Linked DNA regions of Homo sapiens. The protein of the gene in region 2 interacts with the protein of the main gene of each other region in a pairwise test. Each region holds a gene or a part of one and is shown on either strand. Other genes may lie near its edges.

Region 1 (4,108 bases), on a different chromosome or scaffold from region 2:
AACCTTAGGGAGGGCCTAGCACCTCCAGATTTTGAGGCCCCTCACTCTTTTTACTCTTTTTTTTTTTTTTTTTTGAGGCGGAGTCTCACTCTGTCACCCACGCTGGAGTGCAGTGGCGCAATCTCAGCTCACTGCAACCTCTGCCTCCAAGGTTCAAGCAATTTTCTTGCCTCAACAACCTCCCAAGTAGCTGGGATTACAGGTGCCCACCACACGCCCGACTAATTTTTGTATTTTTAGTAGAGACAAGGTTTCACCATGTTGGCCAGGCTGGTCTTGAACTCCCGACCTCAAGTGATCCACCCACCTCATCCTCCCAGAGTGTTGGGATTATAGGCGTGAGCCACCATGACCGGCCAAGCCCCTCACTCTTGGCTCTGTCTCTTATTCTGGGATTCAGACAGCAGAGTGAGGCTGGGAATAAAACTAGGCTGATTCCAGGTAGGATTAGATGGTTAAGTTTTGGGAAAACCGATGAAATGTCGAATCAGAACACTTTTATTATCAAAGGAAACTTTTCCTGTCTCATTCCATGTGTTCAATAGTTATTTTCCCTCCAATTTCCTGGAGAAGACCTTAGTCCAGGAAAAGTCAGTGTATACTTGCACAATAGTACTTTTGAAAACTAGAAAATGAAACCATGGGGCTATTAAAAGATTACAAATGGACCTTTCATTTCAGAACTGACATAAAAGAAGGTAAGTATGGGTCTGTGTACAAACGAGTAAAGACCAATTGCAAAATACTTCAATTTGACACAAACTAGGTTGAAAGTGAACCCCAAAGGAAATACCAAACATTGAAAATGACAAAGTTCAACTTGTTTTGAAACAGGCAATAAGTGAAGAACTGTGGAACCCTAACAAAGAAATATATTTAAAAAGTGACTCACCATGCAATGAATTTGCAATATATAAATATGGCGCGCAATTGAGCACTCTTTGCAATATATGAAGTTCAGTTCAGACAGCTATTCTAGGAGAGTATCTCACTGCAGTCCCAGGGAGGCACAGGTAACCACCAGAGGCAGAACACATTTGGGTGAGCTGGCAACTCCTAGGTCCTCATGCAGGAGGAGGCCCCCTTCCAATAACCCAGGTGATAGCAATAATCTCTGTAATCAGGGGCCTAGGGGCTCTTAGAAAAATTACTGGAGGCTCTGGCCCAAGGCCTGAATCAACACTTGGGACCCTGGCCTGCTATCCTATACAGACATGCCACTGGACAGCAGCCAAAATCTGTGGCTCCTCAAATGGGAAGCCCAGTTCAAATCGCTGTGTGGGCTTCCCCACCAGCAGGGCCTAGCCTCAGGGAGGTATGCCGAGACAACTGGATATACATTGGCCTCCAAATCCATGCCCCTGGAGGTGGAGAAAGGAACTGGGCCCTTTCCCCAGACCAGTTCTCATATATGACCTGGAAATAAACTGCTACTAGATCTAGGGATAACCCTTTCAAGATTTCTAGAACCCTGAATTCTGGCTGTGCTGCTAACTGGGTGACCTTGGATAAGTCTCAGTTTCCCCTGCCACAAGTTGCTCGTCATCAAAATAGTATAAGGCCAGGCCTGGTGGCTCACGCCTGTAATCCCAGCACTTTGGGAGGCTGAGGTGGGAGGATTGCTTGAGCCCAGGAGTTCCAGACCAGCCTGGTCAACATAGCAAGACTGCCTCTATAAAATTTTAAATAAGCTTTTTAAAATAAATGGTGAGTATAAATAACTCTTAACAGGAAAAGGGAGATTAAGTTTGTGACGGCATTCCTTCTAGTACCTGGTATACCACAGACATTCTATGCATGCTGGTTGAATGAATAAATGATGAAGGGAAAGGCTGTTTGACTACCAGGGGCTATAGAATCATTGTCATTTTCATCATCACAGCCATCAACAAATCTGTGTACTTTTAAATCATAGCTTTATGATTAAAATCATAGAGGCAGCTTGTTCAGTGTCAAGCGCAGAACAGAGCACGTTCAGATGGGTGCTTTCTTTCCTCCTCACTTAAGGTGGCACTATTGTTATACCCATTTTACAGATGAGAAAGCTACACCCAAAGTCACACAGCTGGCAGGTGATGGAAGCTGGGACATGAACCCAGGCAGTCTGACCCCAGCACCCGGGCTCTCAAGCCACTGTTATTTTTGTTCCTGCCAGATGGCTGAGGAGGTCTTCTGGGGAAGGTCGGTCCCAGAAGCCTTTCGGAGGCTATCTGCTTCTGTAGATTGTGGAAGGAGCAGGGAGGGATCCAAAGTCAGGACTCCCAAGCTAGCCTCTGTACCCTCTGCACTCCACTGCCCGGTGGAGAATTGGAGCAGGTACTCACCACACTGAAGGGCAGCTCCGACAGACCTCAAATGGGGATGGGGCAAGCTAAGATGCGCCCACTCCAACCTCTTCCACAGCCTTCAGAAAGGGCAGGCGCAGCTCTGCGAAGGTGCTTACAAGGGCCAGTCGGTGATCACGGGCAGCACAAGAGCATGGCAGAGGGTATCCTGGCCGAGGTCCTAAGGCGACATCTGCAGCACGAGGAGGCCCCGGGACTCAGACGTGGCCGCTTCGCAGAACGACGGGGTCCTAAGTGGATCTGGCGGTCGCGTCCCGCTGGCACCCCGGCTCTGACTGTCGCCCTCCGGCTCCCACCGCAGCGCCGAGCTGGGCCGCCGACCTACGTACCTGGTTGCTTGAGGCAGGCCGCACGCAGCCCCAAACTGGTCCGGGCCACTTGGGTCACAGCCGCGGTTCCCGGGAGAAAGCGCTCCCTAGCCCCGGAACAGCCAATCCTCGGCCCTAGCCAGGTATGAGCTCCCAGGCGAGCCTTCCAAACCCAAGGCGGAGTTCCGTGCGCCAATCATCGGTGGGAGACAGGGAGGGGGCGTGTCCATCCCCGCCCCCCGCCTCCGCTGGCCTCGAAAGCGGAGTGCGAAGCTTCCTCAAACCTAATCGGCGGCGGAGCGGCGGTGAGGGGGCGTGTCTGCCCGGGCCCTGCCCACCGCCCTCTCCGCCCCCGCGCGGCGCCCGAGGCGCCCCCTTCATTGACGTCAGTCCCCAGGGCCAGCGCGGTTTTGCTGGCGCGGGAGCTGGGCGGGGCTGCATTCCTGCCCCAGGGTGCGGCGAAAGCTGGCCCTGCCGGGTACACGTGACGGATGCCCCTTCTCCTGGGCCCGAGGCCAGCGCGCGCGGCACTGACTGCCTTGCAGCGCGTGGCCCTCTGCAGATCCTCAGACTCTGCCGCTCAAGTCCCCTCCCAGCCCACCGTTTGGCTCCGGCTTTGAGGGAGAGGAGGGGGCAGTCTGCTGGAGTCAGACCTTGGGCTTCAAAGCCAGAATGTCGTGGGTTCAAATATTGGGTCATTTGTGCGACTTTGGGCCGGTTACCTAAACAAGACCGTATTTTAAAGTTTGTATGCATTCGGAAATGTTCATTAGTGACCTATGCTGTCCGAGTTCCTTGATAGGCCGTAAACAAGAGAGACGGAAAGACCTATAGCCCTTGTCCTGGGGAGTCTACAGCCTAGTAAGGGAGGCAGGCATTAAACAACCTAAAACATGGAGTATGTGATTACAGTTGTGATCAATGTTATGGCTATAAGAGGATAAATATGGAGGAACCTAAGCTTCCTCTGGGAGGTTCAGGAGGGCTGAAGAAGCAGCATTTAAGCTGAGATATAAAGAAGGAGTTGAAACTGGTCAAATGAAGAGGAGTGGATCTGGGGAGACTGCTTTAAGGAAAGAGGGAAAGGCATTTGGTTGGGCCAGGAGGTAGCTTGGCTCCGGAGGAATTAAATGCGACCCGGAGTAAGGCTAGCAAGAGAGAGCACGGTGGGAAGTAGAAGGCAGAGGCAGGCAGAGAAGGTTGCATGTGATCCTTGGAGGGGTTTAAACAAGGAATGGCATTATATGTACTGTGTTTATGTAACGGGCATTTTATAGTACTTACCACGTACCAGTAGTGTCAGTCAGCACTTTGCAAATTTCATCATCATGACAAGTTTGTGTTTTTAGAAGGTCACTCTGGCTGCAGTTTGGAACTTGGATTGGAGGGGGCAGGAGTGGAGGCAGGGTGTCCAGTAGGCCTCTGATAAATGCTTGTTTTGTCCTTGGAAGATGA
Region 2 (3,500 bases):
TTGGGAGGCTGAAACAGAGAACTGCTTGAACCCAGGAGGCGGAGGTTGCAGTGAGCCGCTACTGTGCCACTACACTCCAGCCTGGGCGACAGAGCAAGACTCCGTCTCAAAATGAATAAATAAATAAATAAATAGGATTTTAAGAGTACTATAAACAACCGTATGCCAACAAATTGGATTATCTAGATATAATGGATAAATCCCGAGAAACAAACAACCTAGCTAGATTAAATTATGAAGAAACAGAAGATCTGAATATATTTGAAATAAGGATTTTAAGTAGTAATCAAAACCCTCCCAACAAAGTAAACCCCAGGACAAGATGGCTTCATGGGTAATTCTACCAAACATTTAAAGAAGAACAAACACCAGTCTTTCTCAAAGTCTTCCAAAAACTTGAAGAAGGAGGAACACTTGAAACTCATTCTATGTGACCAGCATTATCCTGATACCAAAGCCAGAGAAAGATACTAGAAAACTATACAGCCATATCTCTTACGAATACTGATACAAGAATACTCAACAAAATGCAGGTAAAACAAATTCGGCAGTGTAGCAAAAGGATTATACAAGATCACCAAGTGGCATTTATTCTAGGAATGCAAAATGGTTCAAACACATAAAAATCAATTAATGTAGTACACCCTATGAACAGAATAAAGGGGAAAAACAAAGATCATCTCAACTGATGCAGAAAAACATCTGACAAAATTCAACACCCTTCCCTCATCAGAAAAAAAAAAAATAGAAGGAAACTTAAACTCACCAACATAAGGCTATATACGAAAAACCCGCAACTAACAAGATACTCAATGATGAATGGAAGATTGAAAGCTTTTCCCCTAAGATCAGGAGCTAGACAAATATGCCTGCTTTTACCACTTCTATTCAACGCAGTATTGGGAGGTCTAGCCAGACCAATCAGGCAAGAAAAATAAATAACGCATCCAAATTGGAAAGGAAGAAGCAAAATTTATCTCTGCTATAAGAGACGTGATTATATATGTAGAGAACACTAGAGATTACACAAAAAGTAGTTAGAGCTAACAATTAGACATTGCAGGACACAAAATCAACACAAAAATCAACTATGCTTCTACACACTAACAATGAACAATTATGAAAATTAAGAAAACGATTCCATTTACAATGGCATCAGAATAATAAAGTACTTAGAAATAAGTTTAACCAAAAAGGCGAAAAAAGCCTTGTACACTGAAAACTACATCCCCGAAAAAATCAAGGAAGACAAGGAAATGGAGAACCATCCCATGTTCATGGATTGGAAGGCTTAATATAAGGTGACAATACTAACTGAAGCTATGTACAGACTCAATGTATTCCTTCTCAAACTCTCAGTGACTTCTTTCGTAAAAACAAAAGTCCATCCTAAAATTAATGTGGAATCTCAAAGGACCCTAAATAGCCAAAACAATCTTAAAAAAGAAGAACAGACCAGGCGCAGTGGCTCACACCTGAAATCCTAGCACTTTGGGAGGCTGAGGTGGGCAGACTGCCTGAACTCAGGAGTTTCAGACCACCCTGGGCAACATGGTGAAACCCCATCTCTACTAAAATACAAAAAAAAATTAGCCAGGCATGGCAGCATGTGCCTGTAGTCCCGGCTACTCGGGAGGCTGAGGCAGGAGAATTGCTTGAACCCAGGAGGCAGAGGTTACAGTGAGCCGAGATTGCACCACTGCACCCTAGCCTAGGTGACAGAACAAGACTCCATCCCTTAAAAAAGAAAAAAAAAAAAAAGAACAGTGTTAGAGGACTCACATTTCCTGACTTCAATACTTACTACAAAGCTATAGTAATCAAAACAGTGTGGTCTTGGCATAAAGGCAGACATATATATCAATGGAAATGAATAAAGAGCCCAGATACAAACCCTTGCATATACAGTTAACTAATTTTCAACAAGGATGCCAAGAATAATGGCAAAGAACAGTATTTTCAACAAACAGTGCTGGGAAAATTGGATTAGGTTGGACCCTTACCTTAAGCCATCTATAAAAACTAACTCAAGATGGATCAAAGATCTAAATATAAGAGCTAAAACTATAAAACTCATGGAAGAAAATACAGGGGAAAAGTTTCATGACACTGAATTTGGCAATAATTTCTTGGATATGGCAACAAAAGAAAAATAAATAAACTAGACCTCAAAATTAAAAACTTTTGTGCAAAGGGCGCTATCAAGACAGTGAAAAGGCAACCTATATAGAATGAGAGAAAATATTTGCAAATAATATCTAATAAGGGATTAATATCCAAGATATATAAATAACTCACTTAACAACTACAAAAACCCAGTTAAGAAATGGGCAAAGGACTTGAATTAACATTTCTTCAAAGAAGAGGTACAGGTGACCAACGGGCACAAGAAAAAAATTCTTAACATCACTAATCATTGGGGAAATGCAAAACAAAACCACGATGAGATACCACTTTATGCACATTAGAATGGCCATTAAAAAAAAATCCAGGAAAGAACTAGGGCTGGCAAAGACGTGAAGAAATTGGAACACTCGTGCACTGCTTATGATGATATAAAATGACACAGCCACTGTGCCAAACAGTATAGTGGTTTCTGAAAAAATTGAATTTAGTATTATCATATAACCCAGCAATTCTACTTTTAGGAACACACACCCAGAACAACTGAAAGCAGGGACTGAAGCAGATATTTGTATGCCAATGTTTATTCATTGGTATTTACAATAGCCAAAAGGTGGAAACAACCGACAACATAAATAGATGAGTAAATAAAGATGGTATGTACACATAAGAGTATTATTCAGACTTTAAAAGAAATGACGTCAGGCACAGTGTCTTATGCCTCTAATCCCAGCACTTTGGGAGGCCAAGACAGGAGGATTGCTTGAGCCCAGGAGTTCAAGACCAACCTGGGCAACACAGAGACTCCATCTCTACCAGAAATTTTAAAAAGAAAAATTAGCCAAGCAGGGTAGTACATACCTATAGTCCCAGCTACTCAAGAGGTTGCAGTGGGAGGATCACTTGAGCCCAGGAGGTCAAGGCGCAGTGAGCCACGATAGCACCACTGCACTCCAGCCTGGGCAACAGAGTGAGACCCTGTCTCAAAAGAGAAATAATTGAAAAAAAATTCTGATACATACTATAACATGGATAAACTTTAATAACAATGTTAAGTGAAATGAGCCAGTGACAAAAGGACAAATACCATATGATTCCACTCATATGAGATACCTAGGATAGTCATATCCTCAGAGACAGAAACTAAAACAGAAGTAACCAGGGGCTGGAGGAAGAGGTCATAGGGGTAATTGTTTAGTAGGTAGAGAGTTTCAGTTTAAAATGATGAAAAAGCTCATGAGAGATCAGTGATGGCGGCACAACATTGTGACTATACTTAGTAACACTGAAAGGTTAAAAATAGTACCTTTTATTATGTATATCTTACCACAATAAAAAGCCCCACAGGGTAGTCAATGTTATGTTTAAAAGAGAAG

The links. The genes of interacting proteins can lie anywhere in the genome.
Region 1: the proteins of CDCA7L (region 2) and AVPI1 interact in binary tests that used the Homo sapiens proteins (3 or more experiments, as listed by UniProt).

The regions. Positions count from the first base shown.
Region 1 is NC_000010.11:97,684,442-97,688,549, forward strand, and holds the start of AVPI1 (arginine vasopressin-induced protein 1), read right to left. Parts: upstream 2,801-4,108; 5' UTR 2,325-2,800; intron 1-2,324. UniProt on the Homo sapiens protein: May be involved in MAP kinase activation, epithelial sodium channel (ENaC) down-regulation and cell cycling.
Region 2 is NC_000007.14:21,935,900-21,939,399, forward strand, and holds part of CDCA7L (cell division cycle-associated 7-like protein), read right to left. Parts: intron 1-3,500. UniProt on the Homo sapiens protein: Plays a role in transcriptional regulation as a repressor that inhibits monoamine oxidase A (MAOA) activity and gene expression by binding to the promoter.